4 linked regions of the Homo sapiens genome follow. The protein of the gene in region 3 purifies or fractionates together with the protein of the main gene of each other region. This does not show direct contact. Each region holds a gene or a part of one and is shown on either strand. Other genes may lie near its edges.

Region 1 (5,024 bases), on a different chromosome or scaffold from region 3:
GACCGTCACAGAGGTGACACTCGTGAGCAAGCTGGGCCGTGGGTGTGGTAAGGGATTCCTCTCCGCCTCTGTGCTCCCCACTTGGGCAAGAGGAGGGTGCATGCGCAGGCTGGGGGCCAATCCTGCAGGGGGAAGGGGCAGTCCTCATTTTCCTTGGAGAGAAGAGGTGGGCAGAGGACCTCGAGCTATGCGAGAGCATCCTCCAGAAGCCCTGAAACCTCCAGCTGGGTACTTCCATTCATTTTGCTTTCCCTCTCTCAAAAAGAGAATCCCTGGCAACCAGTGCTAAACATGGCCTATCAGTGGGACCCTCCTAGTGATTCACTAGCGCCATTTGGGGAACAAAATAGCATTTCACTCTCTCAATAAAAAAATCATCTGGCTGAAGATGGTGGCTCATGCCTGTAATCCCAGCACTTTGGGAGGCCAAGGTGGGTGGATTACCTGAAGTCAAGAGTTTGAGACCAGCCTGACCAACCTGGTGAAACTCTGTCTCTACCAAAAATACAAAAATTAGCCGGGCATGGTGGTGGGCACCTGTAATCCCAGTTATCTAGGAGGCTGAGACAGGAGATGGAGGTTGCAGTGAGATCATGCCACTGCACTCCAGCCTGCATGACACAGTGAGACTTTGTCTCAAAAAAAAAAAAAAAAATTCATCCATACATTTTTCTGGGTGACTAGACAGTATCCAAAGAAACATCATTACAAAAATAGGTTTTCTCTAGTCCTGTCTATATATATATATTTTTTTCCCTTGGCCCATTTATTTGGCTGAAATATATGAGATGCTTACTTACATCTGGTGCTGGTCTCAGAGTAAAAAAATAAAAGATTTCACGATGTGGTATCCAAGGATCCTAAAGAACGCCTGGATCCCACATGCCAGGCACTGTTTTGCAAAAGGAAACAGGGATGTTTTAGCTTGATTAGATTTAGTGATGCAATAAAACTGCTGTCTTCAGAGACAAAACAAAATAAACTTCCCAGCTATGGAGAGGAGGCTGTTTTTGTTTGGAAGAGGCACTCCTGGGCCTTTTGTTAAGACGGGTGTCAGCTCGGAACCAGCAGCCCTGCAGAAGTGCCCAGGATTTTCTTTGTTTAAAAGCAAGTCTTCAGGGTCTGCTGAGGGTGTACGGGTGGTGGGTCTGGGTGGTTCCTTTTGCCGTGGTCCCGGGAGTGGCTGGGCGGGCCACGGTCAGGTGGAGGCCGGGCTGTCCATGGTAGACAGCAGGTGAACGACCTGCGCCCGCTCAGCTGGGCTGATGTGCTGGCTCAGGTATATCACACAGTCCACGGCCACCTCGGGGTTTTCTTCAACCAGGCTGTGGGGGAGGTGAGAGGAGGGCTGGGATCACTCCAGCCACTTTTTCAGTGGCCCCAAGGGTGGCAGAGTCCTTGTGTGGGGCCACACCCCAGAACCCAGAGCTCCCGAGTCCCTGCTGTGGTCCCCATGGGGGTGATGGTCCTGTGCAGCAGGAGGGGCTGTGACCTGAAGTTCAGAATGCCTTGAGGCACCACCGTCCCTACTGGTCACTGCTTTGTGACATGACCTGAGACAAGACACTGCCTTGAGTCTCAGCTTCATCCCCAAAATGGGGTCCCCTGTGCTCGACTCCCTCCTTCACGGGGTGACCCCATGGCAATTGGGGGAGGGGACCCTCTGGAAAGGTCAACACTGGCGTGGAAGACAGCAGCCTGAAGGCTAGCGGTTCCAAATGTGGGTTCTGTGACCAACCCTGCTCCAGCTGTGACTTTGGACAAGTCCATATTCCAGCAAGGTTCATGAGTTGGAAGCATCTCACACGGCCTTCAGAGTACCTCTAGGCTCTCTGTCCCACCCCAGCCACTGTGCTGGGAGACCCGACATTAGGGAGTGTGGTCTCTTTGCTGGGGAGCGGGGAGGGGGCGGGGACAACCCCAGACTGCACAGGGTGGCGGGTTCAAGTGGCTGCATAGGAGTCGGGTAGCTAGGGGTCAATCCAGGCTCGGGTCCTTGCCAGGAGGCTGGGAAGCAGGTGCGGTGGCCACTCACCCTCGGATGGTCTTGAGGACAGAGTCGTGCTTCAGGTACGTGATGTTCTCACGGATGGTGGAGCGCGGGCCATCCCCTGCCTGCCAGTGCTGTTCCAGCCACTGCACAACCACCTGGTTGTTGTCCCACAAGTAGGCCTGGGGAGGGGGCAGAGGATGCCTCAGAGAGGGACCCAGCTGTGGGCCAGCTGTCTCAGCCCCCAGCACCCCCTGTGCTCACCGGCCTCGTTCTCACCCCAGGCCCACCTTGACAGCCCCCTCCGTCTCCACGAACCAGCGACGCAGCATGGACTGGATATGCACGTGACTCAGCTCCCCGCTGGCCTGCAGGATCTCCTGCTTGACCTGGTCCTCCAGGAGGAGGCGGCGCAGACGCCAATACAGGAAGGTGCGTGCGGTCTTCCACTCCAGGATGTCCTGTGGACGAGCCAGGCTTGAATCCCCGGAAAGGGAAGGAGGAGACGGGACACTGGCTCTGACCACACCCATGACAGTGGCTGCCCGGGGCTGGGCCCAGGCTCTGAGATCATTCCCAGATCATCCCAGGCAAGTAAGCTGAGGCTCAGGGAGGAGAAGGCACCTGCTCAGAGGCAGGACGTCACCAGGACTCCAGACTGGCCATAGTTGAAAAAATGTCCCCCATAAAAACCTGGCACCCACTTCTACCTCAACCGACACAAACACAGGCTCGTGTGAGGCATGAGTCAGCTGGGAGGGAGAACAATGCAGCAAGAGAACCAATGAGCACTGGACATGGGTAGGAGGTGACTGTGGGAGTCCTTGCAATGGTGAGGGGTGGGTGAATGCTGGACAGGAACAACGGTTTCTACCCCTGGTCCAGGTCCAAACTGACCGAGCCATCAGACTAGTGGTCCCTGAACTTTGCTGCTTATTAGAATCTCTTGGGGATCTTTAAAAAATACGACCGCCTGGCTTCCATCCAGGTGTTTGGATTTCACTGGTCTGCAGTGCCACCTGGGGATCGGGATTATTTTAAAGTTCCCAGGTGACTCCCACCTCCTGCAGCATTTGACCCATCCCAACCACCACCGCCCTCCCCGCCCCCGAGCCCAAATGTCCTCCATGTTTTGGAAAACAGGGTGGGCTCTTTGCACCCTACACGGCAGCTGTGGCTCTCACAGATATGACGCCCTTCTCCAGCATCCGGCCGGGTGTGTCATGGAAGTCGGCGAACTGCACCGCCACCTGGTGGTAGATGGGGAGCAGCAGGTCCTCGCGAGCCTTTAGCCGGCCCTCCAGGTCCTTTCGGTCCTTGTCGGAGAGATCAGGTTCCCCTGCAGGTGAGCAGAAAGGCCAGTCAAGCCATGGAAGCTGGTCATATGTGATGGGGTGGAGATTTTTTTTTTTTTTTGAAGAAGGCACAAATCAGGATTTGCAGGACAGGCCTTGCCTTGTGAGAGGTCTGAGCTTTAACTCTGATATTACCCCTGCTGCTACACAGGCTGCCCTCAGCCCCCTAGGTCCCCCAGAGTCCACTGGCCTGGCCCCCACCCCAGGCCCATCTTGATGGCCCCCTTTGTCTCAGATCAAATAGCTAGTACAGTCTCAGAAATGCACTCACAATTGCAAGACAGCATTCAACATGCAACTCTACATTTTCCCCTTCCATCAGACCCATCGTGCTTGTAGGATACTATATCAATGATTTTTAGTACACATTGTAAAATATGATAAGGGAATATTATAAGCAACTCTATGCCAAATTGACAACTTAAGATGAAATAGACAAATTCCTTGAAACACACAAACCACCAAAGCTCACCTAGGAGGAAACAGATAACACAAATAGTCCTATATATAACAAAGAAGTTGAATTTATAGGTAAAAACCTCTATCAAAAACATAAAGAAATAATGCCAATTCTGCAAAAACTCAGAAAATAGGAGCGAACACTTCAACTCATTCTATGAGATCAGCATTACCCTGATACCAGCCAAAGAAATTACACGCACACACTGTAAAAAATCTTGTGAATAGCACAGTTATAAAGACACTGACACTTAAAATGGATATTTAAATATCATCTTGTGGCCAGACTTAGTGGCTCACGCCTGTAATCCCAGCACTTTGGGAGGCTGACGCAGGCAAATCACTTGAGGCCAGGAGTTCAAGACCAGCCTGGCCAACATGGTGAAACCCTGTCTCTACTAAAAACACAAAAATTAGCCAGGTGTGGTGGCACACACCTGTAATTCCTGCTACTTGAGAGGCTGAGGCATGAGAATCGCTTGAACCTGGGAGGCAGAGGTTGCAGTGAGCTGAGATTGCGCCACTGCACCCCAGCCTGGGCAACAGAGCAAGACTCTGTCTCAAAAATAAACAAATAAATAAATAAAGATAATTACATCTAAAGATGACAAGTAAAACAAAGCTGTCATTCAAACAAAATTAGTAAAATATCTTATCTCTGATTGGGAATTCTAAAGGAACATTTTGCCACCAAAATTCTGATAATCCCCATCAGCCCCAAATACTTCAATTGCTATCTTTTGTGTATGCTGAGAAATAAATTCACGATGGCAATATATATATATATATATATATATATATATATAATGTTAAAAAGGTTGATTTAGAAATGTGAATGTCCTCCAATCATGGTAGCTCATGCCTGTAACCCCAGCATTTTGGGAGGCTGAGGTAGGTGGATTGCTTGAGCCCAGGAGTTTGAGAACAGCCTGGGCAACATGGCGAAACCCCACATCTACAAAAATACAAAAATTAGCTAGGCATGGTGTTGCGTACTTGTAGTCCCAGCTACTCAGGCTGAGATGGGAGGATGGCTTATGCCTGGGAGGCAGAGGTTGCAGTGAGCTGAGATTGCACCCTGCACTCCAGCCTAGGCAATAGAGCCAGACCTCAAAAAAACAAAACAAAACAAACAGACAAATGTGAATATCTTTAAAAATCTCACAGTTATTATAGCTGTATTTTGGTATTTTTTCATTTTATTTTTAACATCCTAGAAA
Region 2 (5,024 bases), on a different chromosome or scaffold from region 3:
AGAAGCATTTCTTTGCAGTATTTTTTCAAAAATATTTTTTAAATGCCCCAATGCCACAAGAAATATTTTAACTGAAAAAAATCACACTTGAAAGACAACTAGTAGACAGACTGCCCTAATATCTGCTTCTTTTAGCAACAAACTTTGATTAGCCATTTATTCTAAAAGCCACACAGTGAAATTCTTAAAATTCTTGATTTCGGCCGGGCATGGTGGCTCACGCCTGTAATCCCAGCACTTTGGGAGGCCGAAGCGGGCGGATCACAAGGTCAGGAGATCGAGACCATCCTGACTAACATGGTGAAGCCCTGTCTCTACTAAAAATACAAAAAATTAGCCGGGAGTGGTGGCAGGTGCCTGTATTCCCAGCTACTCGGGAGGCTGAGGCAGGAGAATGGCGTGAACCTGGGAGGCAGAGCTTGCAGTGAGCCGAGATTGCACCCCTGCACTCCAGCCTGGGCAACAGAGCGAGACTCCATCTCAAAAAAAAAAAAAAATTATTGATTTCACATTTAAACATAACAAGAAATAGGCTGCGCACAGTGGCTCACACCTATAATCCCAGCATTTTGGGAGGCCAAGGCAGGCAGATCGCTTGAGGTCAGGAGTTCAAGACCAGCTTGGTCAATATGGTGAAATCCTGTCTCTACTAAAAATACAAAATTAGCCGGGCATGGTGGCGTGCACCTGTAGTCCCAGCTACTCGGGAGGCTGAGGCACGAGAATCACTTGAACCCAGGAGGCAGAGGTTGCAGTGAGCCGAGATTGCGCCACTGCACTCCAGCCTGGGTGACAGAGTGAGATTGTCTTAAAAAAAAAAAAAAATTAATAAATAAAACAGGAAATAGACGTATTCAAGAGGGAAAAGGAAGACTTACTGAGTACCTACTATATGCTTGGTGCTTTACATAAAAATTTTTTTAACTCCAATGATAGTCTTATGAGGCAAATATTACCCCCAATTTTTTTTTTTTTTTTGAGGCAGGGTCTCACTCTGTTGCCCAGCCTGGAGTACAATGGCATGATTACAGATCACTGCAGCCTCGACCTCCCAGGTTCAAGTGATCCTCCCACCTCAGCCTCCCAAGTAGCTAGGACCATAGGTGAATGCCACCACACTCAGCTATTTAATAATAATTTTGTCATTTTTGTAGAGACAAGGTCTCCTATGTTGCCCAGGCTGGTCTCAAACTCCTAGGCTCAACTGATCCTCCTACCTCCACCTCTGCCTCCCAATTATCCCCAATTGAGAGATGAAAATTCTGACAAGCTCTCAAACGTTAACTGACTTGCCCATAAATGACAGTTCCAAAGTTATAAGGCTAGAACTTGAATCCAGGTCTGTTAGAAATCTAGGTTTGAGAATCCATATTCTCTCCACTTAATGGATTTAAGATTCACAGATATAAAAGCCTATCTAAGGAAAAAGAATATTTAAAAGAATACAGTTATATATTCAAAGAGCTACACAATCTTACAGTTTAAGAAAAATCAAAACTGAGAAAAAGTATGCTCCAAAATTATTGCTAATTGTAAAAAAAAATAAATAAATAAAAAAAACACACACAATTTTTAGCAAGCCAGCTGTCTATGACAGGACAGCTAGTCCATTCCTCACTGTACATGTAAAATTACACTTCAGTTGCCCGCTGGATGACCCCACTGCCAAAATACGCCAGCAACATAATTCACATTAAAACCCAGAGGCCTAACACTATTTGGAAAGTGCTTTACATGTTTACTATACCTATCCCAAGCATATTTACCACTCATAATTCATAGGCCATTTTCAGCAAATATACTTTGTTCTATCATATTATTTTCTGCCACTCTAAAATCATATTAAATGTATAAAACAAAAACACCTACCTAAATATAACATCTCACAAATAAACCTTAGTAGTATTATGTTATTTTGAACTTGTCTATTGTATGAAACTATGCCATAATTGTTTCTATAACATAAATTAGGTATGTTCTTTCTACAGGATCAAAATTCCAATACCTACACTCCTTGCATGTCTAAAGATACACACAAAATAGGTACAGAAACCTATATGTTAAAGGGTTTCCCATGTAAATTAAATCCTCTATGAGCTGGATTAGTGACTAGAAGAAGGCATGAGGCAGCTTGTAGAGTTCTAGTGATATTCTATATCTTGATGTAGATGTTAGTTACACTGGTATGTTCTTAGTGAAAATTCACTGAGCTATATATTTACCAGCTGTGTACTTTTTGTATATTTTATAATTTATAAAGTCTTATATTTTTAGGCTGGGCACAGTGGCTCAGCCTGTAATCCTAGCACTTTCAAAGGCTGAGGCAGGAGGATGGCTCTAGTCCAGGAGTTTAAGACCAGCCTGGGCAACACAGTGAGACCCTATTTTTTCTGAACTTATATTTTTTAAAATGCTCAATCTAAAAACTTGTTTTACTAAAAAGCACTGATATCATCCCTCTTACCAAAGTAGTCAAACCCTAGTGAAGAAAACAGACAAGTAATTAAGCTATTTCATTAGAGGACTATGATAGAAGTAATTACTATGTGCTACAGGAGCACATAAGAATGGTACCTAACTTAATCTGAAAAGAGGTAAAGGAAATCTTCCTGAAGAATATACACCTGAACTGAATCCTAAAGGTCAGACAGAAATTAGCCAAGCAAAGAAAGGGGAAAGTGGAAATCAGGGAAATAGAACATCAAATGTAAAAGACGAGAGAGAAAGCACATTACCTGAGAGGAAGCCTAAAGTCAGTAAGAGTGGATTAAAGTATGTAAGGAAGACAGCAAGTGAAGAAAAGCTAGAGAATTAAGAGTTAGATCATGAATGATCTCATACACATGCCATGCTACAGTTTAAACTCTATCCTGAAAGCAATGAGACAGCTTTTTTGAAGATTATTCAATAGGAAAGGACATGATTTGATTTTTATCTGTACTATACATGTCAAAATTATGGTGTGGGCCATGCTCACAACCCCATTTTGCGGTAAATTAGCCTGCACACTGTCCCATACTTTCCACCATTAAGATCTTTCCTGATACCCATATATACATACAAACACACAGCCAACAATAAATGGCCAAGAGTGGTGACATAACCTAAGTACACAGACTTGTTAGCAATCAATGAGAAAAAGAGCTGAGCCAAATCTGGAATTCAAACCAGAAAATCCTAGGGAAAAGGAAGAGGTTAGCAACAGGAGCTAACCTCTTTTAAAACGTTTTAAAACAATTGCAGCCAGGAGGCAAGATGTTGGCATGGGGGTCACATAGTAGTTATAAGGAGCAGAAATTAGTAATAAATGGAAGCTATGACATAGGGGGAAAAAAACTGAAGAAAGAAACGGTATCTAGGACAAGCTAACAATGGAGCACTGGAGTGGGGTCTCCAGCTTTATTAGGTTCTTGTTCTTCTTGAGAGCAAGTTTTATTAGGTTCTTTTTCTTCTTGAGAGCAAGTTAACTTTTCCTGGGTTCCCTTGTGTATGGTTCCTTTCAATAAGCACTTCATTACTTAAGGTAACTTGAGTCTCTTCCCTCCAAGTGAAAGAGCCTGACTAAAAGAGCATTTTAGAATACTTACTCCAACAGCAGTCAAGAGAATGAACAGGAGGGCATGACAAGAGGCAGAAGACAGAAGGCAAGAAGACCACTCAGCATTACAGAAGCCCAACAAACAGATATTTTCAGTTAAAATAAGATAGAGGCAACAAAAAGTAATAAGGAATGACCTGAAATATCATGAGGGAAAATGTACAAGGCAGTGACAGACTGGATGTTGGCAGTGAAGTACAGAGTGAAGCGGAGGGCAATTCCCAGGTTCCTGAAGGTTTCATGAGGAAAGAGTGGTGCCATTAATCAAGGTAGGAAATCGGGGGGAAGAAAAAATTTTGTTGCAGTTTCTGTCTCCGGCTCTCTCTCCACTGTTTTTGTGGGGGGAAAAGAGGCAGGAAGAGTTTTGTTTCCTAAATGTTTGGATTGAAGTGTTTGTGAAATGTGAATCAAAGTGGTGATATCCATTAGGCAGTGCTTTTACAGGGGTCTAGAGCAAAGGCAAGCACTCTAGACAGCAGTTCTAGACTTAGGAATCAATACATTAAGTCAATATTGTGGTTTTTAAAATGTCTGAAAAGTCTTTGACTAATATTTATTTCAAACTGAGTTAACATAACCAAAAATCACTCCAACTAAAAACCTTAATATTCTTGGCAAATCATATTTTCAAACCTCCTACATTTCTCTGCTATTAAAGACTGAACAAACTTCCACATAGTATAATCCAAATGATTAGGAAAGATGGAGTTTATATCGCTAACTTCTATTGAGGTACTTGTTAAAAAAAATCTAAGTTTACCCAATTTCCCTCAGGAACTATATACTACTAAAATAACTAAGGGAAAACAACTGTTAAAAATTCATATATTAGATAGTGAATCTCACTGTTAATGCTTAAACTAGAATAAGTTTTTTAAAGGCACTTAATCATGTAATTTACTAATTTAAATATTCAACTCTACCTGTAATTTAAATGTTGGGTTTCCATCCTAAAACCTTTTCTCCTCCCTTCTGTATGATTTTGCCTCCAAAATCTACTGCTATCAACCCAGAACCTGATACTGAGCTTCAGCCACAAATCCAAATGCCTAATGGTCATCTACATCTGACAGAACTACAGTCACCTAAACTGAACATGTCACAAATTAACCCCTCTATCCTTCCTCCTTGACAAAATAAAAACAAAATCCCACTCCTTCATGGGAATCCCCACCTCAGTGAAAGGCACAAGCCAGAAACCTAGATTTTATCCTGTATGCAACTTCTCCCCAACCCCAAATACAATAAAATCACCAACTCAACTCCGAATATCCAAGTTCAGATCCAGTCTCACCATTTGCCTGGATAACCCTAATATTCCTGGCCTTTAGTCTTATTCTACTCTTCAATTCACTGCAGCCAGAATGACTTTTTTAAAATGCAAATCTGATCATTCCAGTCCCCTGCTTTAAAATCCTTCAATAAT
Region 3 (5,024 bases):
ATATGCATATCAATGTAGCATTCTTTCAACTTTTGTTCAGATTTGAAACTTTTCTTTTCTTTTTTCTTTTTCTTTCTTTCTTTTTTCTTTTGAGACGGAGTTCCGCTCTTGTTACCTGGGCTGGAGTGCAATGGCGTGATCTCAGCTCACTGCAACCTCGGCCTCCCGGTTCAAGCGATTCTCCTGCCTCAGCCTCCTGAGTAGCTGGGATTAAAGGTGCCCACCACCATGCCCGGCTAATTTTTGTATTTTTAGTAGAGAGAGAGTTTCACCATGTTGGCCAGGCTGGTCTCAAACTCCTGACCTCAGGTGATCTGCCCGCCTTGGCCTCCCAAAGTGCTGGGATTATAGGCATGAGCCACCGTACCCGGCCCCAAATTTTTCAAAATTAAGAGTTAAAAATAAACTTAGCCCTAAAAATAACCAAGTTTGTGCACCCTTTTTCTTTCTCCACCCCTGCCTCCCATTAATGTTCTCTGAAATTTTGTACATTTTCCACTGTAACATTAGAAACACAACCTCACACACACTCGCAGGGAGAATTTGGGTAAACATCCATCCAGGCACCAGAGTTTCTCCTTCTACTCTATGAGTGCAAATCTGAGCCCTAATCTGCTAAGCAATTTTGCACACATCTCTTTATCAGTTAACGGTCCTTAGTGAATGTCACTGGGAACAGATGTGGATAAAATGGACACAAGAGCAAAGAAAGCATTATTTGTTACTTTGTACATGTCTCACTTTGATAACCATCAAACTAAAGGTCAAAAGGTATTGAATCAATATGGATTTGCTTAGGTATATGCAAAGATTCTCTAGAGGGACTCTAATAGTATTGGTTACTTATGGGGAGGAAAATTAGGTGGCTGCAGAAGCAAGGGCGGGTGGGAAACTTTTCTATTTATACCCTTTTGTAGTTTTTGAATTTTGAGCTATGTAAATATGTAATTTATTCAAACAGTAAATGTAAATTTAAAAAAAAAACACAAGTTCTATCCTGGCTAACATGGTGAAAATCCATGTCTACTAAAAATACAACAAATTACCTGGGCGTGGTGGGGGGCACCTGTAGTCCCAGCTACTCGGGAGGCTGAGGCAGGAGAATGGCGTGAACCCATGAGGCGGAGCTTGCAGTGAGTCGAGATCGTGCCACTGCACTCCAGCCTGGGCGACAGAGCAAGACTCTGTCTCAAAAAAAAAAAAAAAAAAAAAAACCACAAGTTCTATACACAGTAACACTGATTAGACATTAAGTTGGTAGATGTATCTCCAGTGTAGAAGAAATTCCGAGAATCAGTTTTGTCAGCCATATTGACATGATTGTCAATGTTGGGATGCCAGGTTTGTGTAGTATTGTTGTTGTTGCCTTGTTTTTTTTCCTTCGCTTTGTTTTGTTTTTTTAGAGGAAATTCAGTTTCTTCTGTAGTGCACTTTATATGCAGCAGCATATTTTGGAAAGGATGTCATCCTAGAAGCAAGAATACCTGAATTCTAATCTTGGCTTCAATAACTATCATTTTTCCAGACATGGTATACAACATCTTTCCTCAGTCTGAGTGGTGAAAAAAACCTTTAATTACCTCTCCCACTGAGAAAATTCTGTGATTCTCTCCATATATAATGAACCTTTTCTTGAAAATACAAAAAAAGAAGGAAGAAAGGAAGGAAGGAAAGAAGGAAGGAAGGGAGGGAGAGAGGGAGGGAGGGGTAAATACAAATAAGGAAGGAAGAAAGGAAGGAGGGAAGAAAGAAGGAGGGAGGGGAGGGAGGAAGGAAGGAAGGAAGGAAAGAAGGATGGAAGGAAAGGAGGAAGGGAGGGAGGAAACAGAGCCTTAAAATGTCTTTATATTCATAGATAATTGGCATTTATCCTTTGTTGTTCTTGGAAATAATTGCTGAAATTCCATGTCCTTAAGAAAGCACAGCAAAAAATATCTTTTCACAGACATCTGAGACAGTAAAGCACAAAAAGACATCTATCTTCTTTAGATATGCCTACCAATGTGTATGCATATGGCATATAGAGATACAGGGAATAATAGACCATCTACCTTTTTGTATACATAGCTACAGTTCCTTGTAATTGTTCCTTAACTCATAAAGTTACAGCATCATAAACACTCAGTTTTTTATTAACTATTCTTAGGTACAGTTCAATAGTGTTGATTATATTCACATTGTTGTGCAATGAAGACAGTGGTCTTTGAAATCCAGGAGACAGGCAGGTTCAAACAGCAAACTTTGTGTTGAAACGTCAGCGGCAGTGGTTCTCAGCCGTGGTTGTACATTAGAATAATCCCATCCTCAAATTAATTCAATCTGAATCTCTAGGAATCCTAATGTGCAACCAGAGCTTAGAACTGCTGCCCCAGAGAATTGCTTGAACCCAGGAGGCGGAGGTTGCAGTGAGCTGAGATCGCGCCACTATACTCCAGCCTGAGTGAGAGAGCGAGACTCCGTCTCAAAAAAAAAAAAAGGAAAAAAAAAAAAAAGAACTGCTGCCCCAGAGCATCCTGAGGGTCTGTTTTTATCAGGACAGAAAGCAGAGATCTGACAGGGCCAGGTAAGGCTGGAGGCCCAGACCTCAAAGCCAGACAACAGCTCCACTGGGTCTGAGAAGGCAAGAAACACTTGATGACAGCTCCGAAGCAGGTGCAGCCATGTCTTTCTCTTTCTATGTGTCACATCTCCTAAAGACCCTTCCTAACCCTTAAAACCCTTAAGACTCTAAAGCGAACAGCTCAATTTTAGCAACTTTATATGCTTGTGCAACCATAATCACTATCCATTTTGGCCACCCTCAGCCCTAGGCAACTCCTGATCAGCTCTGTTGCACTGAGCTTCCAGTTTTGACAGGACAGCAACATGATGACAGAGAGAGACAAAGAAGACAAAGAAACACAGGGCAGAGAGAGACCAAGAAGTTATGAAAAAGGGAAGACAAGGAGACAGAGAGAGAAAGAGAGAGAGCCAGAGAGAGAGAGAGCGCAAAGTCAAGAAAGAAGCATGGACTAACAGAAAGTGAAAGACAGAAACAAAGTTGGAGAGAGATTAAAGAGACAAAGAGTCAGAAAAACAGAAACAGATAGACCTAGATACATAGACAGAATGAGAGAGAGAGAGAGAGACACCAAGAAAAGATGGGTGAAGCATAAAATTACTGGGCAACACAAGGCAATTATTTTAAGATAGTCTGAAATTAACAGGATGGTGCCATGTGGTCACTTACGAAGCCACAGCCATCCTCATCCAGGAAAGGGTGGGCCTGCAGCAGGGCATTAACCACGTCATTGTACTGCTGGGTGCTGGGGTACCTGTTCACCAAAACAAGGAGGATATGTTTCACTTCAAGCAAACCACATTCCTTCCTTTAAGATGAGTCTAATTACACTCATTTTTCTTCACATTTTTCTATATAACAAAAAGAGATTTAAATATTGGGCAATTGGGACCTATTACCAATATATCATCCACAATCTGAAGAGAGTTGATTCCACAGGAATTCTACTCTATTCTGAAACAGACCCTTTCCCAAAGCAGCAAGCTTGTCCTGTTGTCACTCACAGTGAGCCTTCCAGATACTTAGTCATGTCGGCCTGGAGAAACTCAATGATCCTTATCCTCATGCTGTGATCCGGGCACTTCTGCTCTGCTAACATGCATTTGACATCATAGGGAAACTCTGGTAAAACATAGGACTTCGTCCACTGTAATGCTTTGCTTCTTGCTAGAATTTGTTTCACATTTCTTCTGTGAAATAAAAACACACAAAGAATGAAATTCTATTCCAAATATATGCAGTTTATTAATTTGCTACATCCTGAGAACTTATGAAATAAACAACTTTCCTGAGACCCAAATATATGGAAGTCATCAAGCCATCTTCCATCCATTCATCCATCCACAAATGTTTGAAGGCTCATTAAGTGTCTTTGTCCATTCACACAACACATAAATATGTATTCTTTAGAAAAAGTCATAATAATATAGACTTTAGAATAAAGCCTGAAGTTGAAATGCATACTAATTCATTTTTCTTAAAGAGAAAATGTAATGCATAGCTCAAAACTAGACAATATACTTAACAAAAAGAAAATACATTGCAATTCAGCAAAGCAAATGAGGCCTACCATAAAGTCTTAGCACCTGTTAAGAAAATTCTTCTAATTAATTTATTCTGCTGTTGTTTATAATTAAATACAAGATCCACCTAATTTAGTTTGTCTTTGCCTATTTTGATAAGGTGAACTTAGTTTCCAAATTAAATATAAGTAACAGATATTCCGATTCTATCCAGATGAAATTTCTATGAAGGGCTACAGAAAACTATAACTACAGAAGGCAGATCAGGAGTTGCCTGGGGATGAGGGTGGATAAAATGGGTAGTGATTATTTGTTGTACAAGCATATAAAGCTGCTAAAATTAACTGAGCTATTCACTTTTTTATTTTTTATTTTATTATTATTATTTTTTAAGATGGAGTCTCACTCTGTCGCCAGGCTGGAGTGCAGTGGCACGATCTCAGCTCACTGCAACCTCCGCCTCCTGGGTTCAAGTGACTCCCCTGCCTCAGCCTCCCAAGTAGCTGGGACTACAGGCATGTGCCACCACACCTGGCTAATTTTTTGTATTTTAGTAGAGATGGAGTTTCACCATGTTGGCCAGGATGGTCTCAATCTCCTGACCTCGTGATCTGCCCACCTTGGCCTCCCAAAGTGCTGGGACTACAGGCCTGAGCCACTGCATCTGCCCAATTTTTTTTTTTTTTTTTTTTTAGACAGAGTCTTGCTCTGCCATCCAGGCTGGTGTGCAGTGGTGCAATCACAGCTCACTGCAGCCTTGACCTCCTGGTCTCAAGCAATCTTCCCACTTCAGCCTCCCAAATAGCTGGGACTACAGGCACGTGCCACCATGCCCAGCCAATATTTTTTATTTTTTGTGGAGATGGGGTCTCACTATGTTGCCCAGTTTCATCTCGAACTCTAGGCTCAAGTGATCCTCTTGCTGTGGCTTCCCAAAGTGT
Region 4 (5,024 bases), on a different chromosome or scaffold from region 3:
ATGCCAGGAGGAGCTGCACAGTTACTGCTGGAACATGTGCACCATGGAACCGTAAGGTGCCCCCCGAGGAGGCTCCTCACCCCTAGCACTTCCCGCTCTGGGGCCTGCAGTCCACCTACATGGGCGTGGAGATGAGGCCTCTCTGTGCCTCAGGGGTCTGGTGGCCACCTCGACTTGTAACCACAGCTATGAAGCTGTGGCTGGTATGAGAAACTTGAAACACTCCCGAAAGCACCAAAGTCCACTTGGACCAAAGGAAAAATGGCCCTCGTAAGGCAACTCAACCTCATAAATGTGCCAAGTCCCCCCAGTTAGCATATTAATATATCCCAATAAAATCCCATTCTGAATCAGGGCAAGATGGTTCTAAAGTTCATAAAGAAAAATAATATGTAAGAGTATCTGGGAAAACTCTGAACAAGACTCATAAGGGGTTCCAGCCCCACCAAGCACTATAAAATGCCCCAAAGCCTCTAGAGTTAAACAGCATAGTAGTCCATAAGGCAGACCAAAGGAACAGAATAGAAAGACCAGAAACCCAGCATTTGATTAAGGTAACCTCTCAAACTACTACAAAAAAGGGGTGGGTCTTTCAAAGAATGGTATTGGAAAAGCTGGACGGCTTTATAATTATTATTACACATTTTTAGAGATGGGGTCTCACTCTGTCGTCCAGGCTAGAGTGCAGTGGTGTGATCACAGCTCACTGCAGCCTCAAACTCCTGGGCTCAAGAAATCTTCCTACATCAGCCACCCAAGTAGTTAGGACCACAGGCAAATGCCACTATACCAGGCTAACAAACACACACACACACACACACACACACACACACACACACACACACACACCACACACACACACCACACACACATACAACTAAATATCAGCAGAAACAAATGAATCTGGGCCGGGCATGGTGGCTCATGCCTCCCAGCACATTTTGGGAGGCTGAGGCAGGCAGATCACCTGAGGTCAGGAATCCAAGACTAGCCTGGCCAACATGGTGAAACCCCGTCTCTACTAAAAATACAAAAATTAGCTGGGTGACACCTGTAATCCCAGCTACTTGGGAATCTGAGGCAGGAGAATCGCTTGAACCCGAGAGGCGGAGGTTGCAGTGAGCTGAGATCACACCACTGCACTCCAGCTTGGGCGACAGAGTGAAATTCCGTCTCAAAAATAAATAAATAAATAAAACGGATTGTATGACAACTTTATAACATAACCACACCCACAAAATGAATTAACTCAATAAGCTTGAGCACATTAGAATTAAATTTTTTCTAAAGGCAAAAGAAACACAAAGTCATCTTGGCCCATTTACAAGCATGGCTGGATAGCGTCCAACACCTTGCCCAGTATTGTGGTCAGGATCCAGGGCTCTCCTTCCAGGGAAGGACAGGACAGAGTACTCTGAAGGACACTGCTCAGAAAAGGCTGTCACAGATGGGGAGGAATCACCCAAAACCCAACAAGTACTACAGCCCAAGTACCCAGGCTAATGCAAAATTCTCCTTTAAACTGTACTTTTCATTGAAAAAAAAGAAAGTGAAAAAGAAAAAAGGACTCATGGGATGCCCCCAGCTGCCCTGCACTGAGCTGTCCTCCTTATCCAACCCTGCCAGAGGAAATCCCACATACACAGTGGACAGGTCCGACCCCGAGGTCTACAGGGCCCAGCAGCTCCCCAAGGCCACTACTGCCTGTAAAAGGCAAAACCTGACTGTAAGCCTGGTCAGGCTTCCCGTCTGTAGGTGGTCAGTGCCCCACAAGGCAGGTGGTACCTTAGTGCAGGACCCAGTCATAAGCCAAGGCTGCGGAGGGGAGTAGGGCTTGGCTTGTGCAATCAGGTCCCAAGCAAGTTGAAAGAGTATGTTCTGTCACCACTGAATCCCATAAATGCTCTGAGAAATGCACGTTTTCAACTGTAATTTTAACTGGATGAAGGCATGACTGTCCAACAAGCTAGGACCAGCACGAGGAGTTGAGAGCCCCCTCAGTAGGGTTCTGGCTCAGTAATGGGAAGATGGGTGCCTCCTACCGGCAGCCTTTCTCTGGAGGGGACATCTCATGTCACCCCGGGGAAAAACCCCAGGGGCAGTGCTGGCTCCTCACCCAGGTTTTCTTGCCTATGGGCTGTGTGCTTTTGAGCTGAGCTCCACCTATCCAAGGAATGGAGAGGGCAAAGGTACCTGCTCCCAGCATGAGCACGCCACCTTATCCCTGTGTAGAAGTGCCTGCTGTCAGACCTGGGCAAGGGCTGACTATCACTACTATCATGCAGTGAGCAGCAAATCCTCACCTCTCTCCCCTCCCCTGGCCAACTCCTATTTAGCCTTTGGATGCAGATTAAATGTCCCTCTGGGGAGGTTTTTCCTGATGCCCGAGATGAAGGCAGGTCCCCTAGAACAGATTTTTTTTTTTTGAGATGGAGTTTCACTCTTGTTGCCCAGGCTGGAGTGCAATGGCGCGATCTCGGCTCACTGCAACCTCCGCCTCCCAGGTTCAAGCAATTCTCCTGCCTCAGCCTCCCCCGAGTAGCTGGGATTACAGGCACCTGCCACTACACCCGGCTAATTTTTTTTATTTTTAGTATAGAGACGGGGTTTCACTATGTTGGCAAGGCTGGTCTCAAATGCCTGACCTCATGATCCACCCGCCTCAGCCTCCCAAAGTGCGGGGATTACAAGCATGAGCCATTGCACCTAGCCTTTTTTTTTTTTTTTTTTTTTGGAGATGAAGTCTCGCTCTGTTGCCCAGGCTGGAATGCAGTGGCTCAATCTCAGCTCACTGAAACCTCCGCCTCCCGGGTTTAAGCGATTCTCATGCCTCAGCCTCCCAAGCAGCTGGGATTACAGGTGCTTGCCACCATGCCCGGCTAATTTTTGTATTTTTGTAGAGATGGGGTTTTAGCATGGTGGCCAGGCTGGTCTCGAACTCCTGAACTCGGGTGATTAGAACAGATCTTTCTCCCTTAGGCCCCTGGCTCAGCTGAAGTGAAGTCATGACTTACTCCTGGTATAACCCCCATAGTAGGAATGCATTGGCCAGGCTGTGGGCTGGCTCAGGACATGCTTGTGGCGTGAACACACTCAAATCTAAAGGGTGTAATGGCCAGTTGCAGTGGAGCACACCTGTGGTCCCAGCTACTCTGGAGGCTGAAACAGGAGGATCACTTGAGCCCAGGAATTCAAATCCAGCCTAAGCAACATCCTTAGACTTTGTCTCTCTGAGAAAGAAAAAGGTGTGATGAGACCCGGGGGGGTACGTACCACAGGTCAGGGTTATCGGTGCTGTTTTCTATGCTGAATTGTTCGATCTCTGGTCCCACCTGAGCAACAAATCTAGCCAGTTTCTCTGCAGTCTCCATTGTCTTCATGTCAACTACAAAACATAAAGCACCTGTCAGGCATGACTCCTGAGCTGCTGCTCCCCGTGTAAACACTGCAGGGTTGTGGAGGCTGATTATAAAGATGGCCTGCATGTCCCCTCCCTGTAGCCTTGCCCTTCGTCACATGTGGACCCTTTGTCACCAAGAAGTGAACTCTGTGTATCCCCACCTTGAATCAGGGCTGGTCCTGGGACTCACATCAGCTATAGAATGTGGTGGAAAAGCCCATTGCCAGTTCCAAGCCTGGGCCTTGGAGGACTTGAGTACTTCCACTGTCTCTCCTGAAGCCCCAACCCCAATTGCCAGGTGAACAAACATGGGCTGGCTGCTGGGGGGATGACAGGCATGTGGCCCAGCCACACCATCATCTCAGCTGACAGCCTGGACACCTGCCACTGACCGCAGACATGTGTGGGCTAGCTCAGCAGATGACCCAGCCACTGGCAAATTCACAATACCGGACGCCTCCTGGTTGGTTTGTTTGGTTTTTTTTTGAGATGGAGTCTTGCTCTGTCGCCCAGGCTGGAGTGCAGTGGTGAGATCTTGGCTCAATGCAACCTCCGCCTCCCGGGTTCAAGCGATTCTCCTAGCTCAGCCTCCCGAGTAGCTGGGACTACAGGCATGTGCCACCACGCCCAGCTAATTTTTTGTATTTTTAGTAGAGATCGGGTTTCACCATGTTGCCCAGGCTGGTTGCGAACTCCTGAGCTCAGGCAATCCACCCGCCTTGGCCTCCCAAAGTGCTGGGATTACAAGTGTGAGCCACCACGCCCAGCTGATGCCTCCTGTTTTAAGCCACAGTTTGGAACGGCTCACGACACAGCAACACCTAAATAATGCAGCAGTTGTGGACACTTTTTTGCTCTCTCCTTCCCACTTAGTGCTTAGGAAGCACTGGCCAGAGAGCAGGCCTGTGGTACAGAGAGAAAGAAACAGCTAAGGTGACAGAAGAAACAGAAGGGGTGAAGTTAGTCGATTCGGAGGAAGCAGTGCAGGTCAGCGAACCCCAAGAACAGGAACTGTGGAGACCCTGGGGATGAGGAGGCGCAATGAGAACAAGGCAGTCCCGAAGACTATCAAGGGAGGCCAGGATATAGCAGGACATGGGATCCCAAGTTCAGGCAATGCACCGCCCACGGCCCCAGCAGCAGGACCCTGTCGGGGAGCACGAAGGCATGGGGCAGCACCTCATACCAGCTCCGCTCTCAGAAGAGGAGGAGGGAGCTGCAGGACTCGCATGCAGCTCTCTCAAGAAAGCAAGAGAGAAAGCGCCAACATGTACACTTGTCCTGGCCAGGTCCCTAGAGCTTTTATCCACTGCCTTGCCTAGATTGCAGGCCCCCCCAATTCTAAAGAGACCCTGGAGATGGGAGAGTAGGGACTGGGGCCCAGAGGAGGGGGACAGGAGTGAGCACCCACTGTCAGCAGATGGGCAGGGAGAAGAGGTCTGAGGTGCTTCAGAGATGTCCACTCCTGCTGGCTTGGGGGATGGGCCTGAGGCTTCTAAGCTGGGGTCCTGAGGAGAAGGTCCAACTGGGTCTGGCGGGCAGTCCTTGGCAGCATCATTTCTGTCTGGCAGGGATGGTTTTGCCTGTGAGAGGCCTGGAGCCTGCCGGCCGTGGTGTTTCAGCC

Evidence for each region.
Region 1: the proteins of SAMD3 (region 3) and ACACB purify together in Homo sapiens (affinity purification with mass spectrometry; one large-scale study listed by BioGRID and IntAct). This does not show direct contact.
Region 2: the proteins of SAMD3 (region 3) and MYO9A purify together in Homo sapiens (affinity purification with mass spectrometry; one large-scale study listed by BioGRID and IntAct). This does not show direct contact.
Region 4: the proteins of SAMD3 (region 3) and SUGP2 purify together in Homo sapiens (affinity purification with mass spectrometry; one large-scale study listed by BioGRID and IntAct). This does not show direct contact.

What each region holds. Positions count from the first base shown.
Region 1 is NC_000012.12:109,262,537-109,267,560, reverse strand, and holds part of ACACB (acetyl-CoA carboxylase 2), read right to left. Parts: intron 3,330-5,024; coding exon 3,175-3,329; intron 2,452-3,174; coding exon 2,281-2,451; intron 2,173-2,280; coding exon 2,036-2,172; intron 1,326-2,035; coding exon 1,199-1,325; 3' UTR 1-1,198. UniProt on the Homo sapiens protein: Mitochondrial enzyme that catalyzes the carboxylation of acetyl-CoA to malonyl-CoA and plays a central role in fatty acid metabolism.
Region 2 is NC_000015.10:72,110,677-72,115,700, forward strand, and holds part of MYO9A (unconventional myosin-IXa), read right to left. Parts: intron 3,868-5,024; exon of another isoform or gene 3,582-3,867; intron 1-3,581. UniProt on the Homo sapiens protein: Myosins are actin-based motor molecules with ATPase activity. Unconventional myosins serve in intracellular movements. Regulates Rho by stimulating it's GTPase activity in neurons.
Region 3 is NC_000006.12:130,180,874-130,185,897, forward strand, and holds part of SAMD3 (sterile alpha motif domain-containing protein 3), read right to left. Parts: intron 3,751-5,024; coding exon 3,565-3,750; intron 3,315-3,564; coding exon 3,230-3,314; intron 1,469-3,229; coding exon of another isoform or gene 1,433-1,468; exon of another isoform or gene 1,199-1,432; intron 1-1,198.
Region 4 is NC_000019.10:19,005,044-19,010,067, forward strand, and holds part of SUGP2 (SURP and G-patch domain-containing protein 2), read right to left. Parts: coding exon 4,812-5,024; intron 3,386-4,811; coding exon 3,274-3,385; intron 1-3,273. UniProt on the Homo sapiens protein: May play a role in mRNA splicing.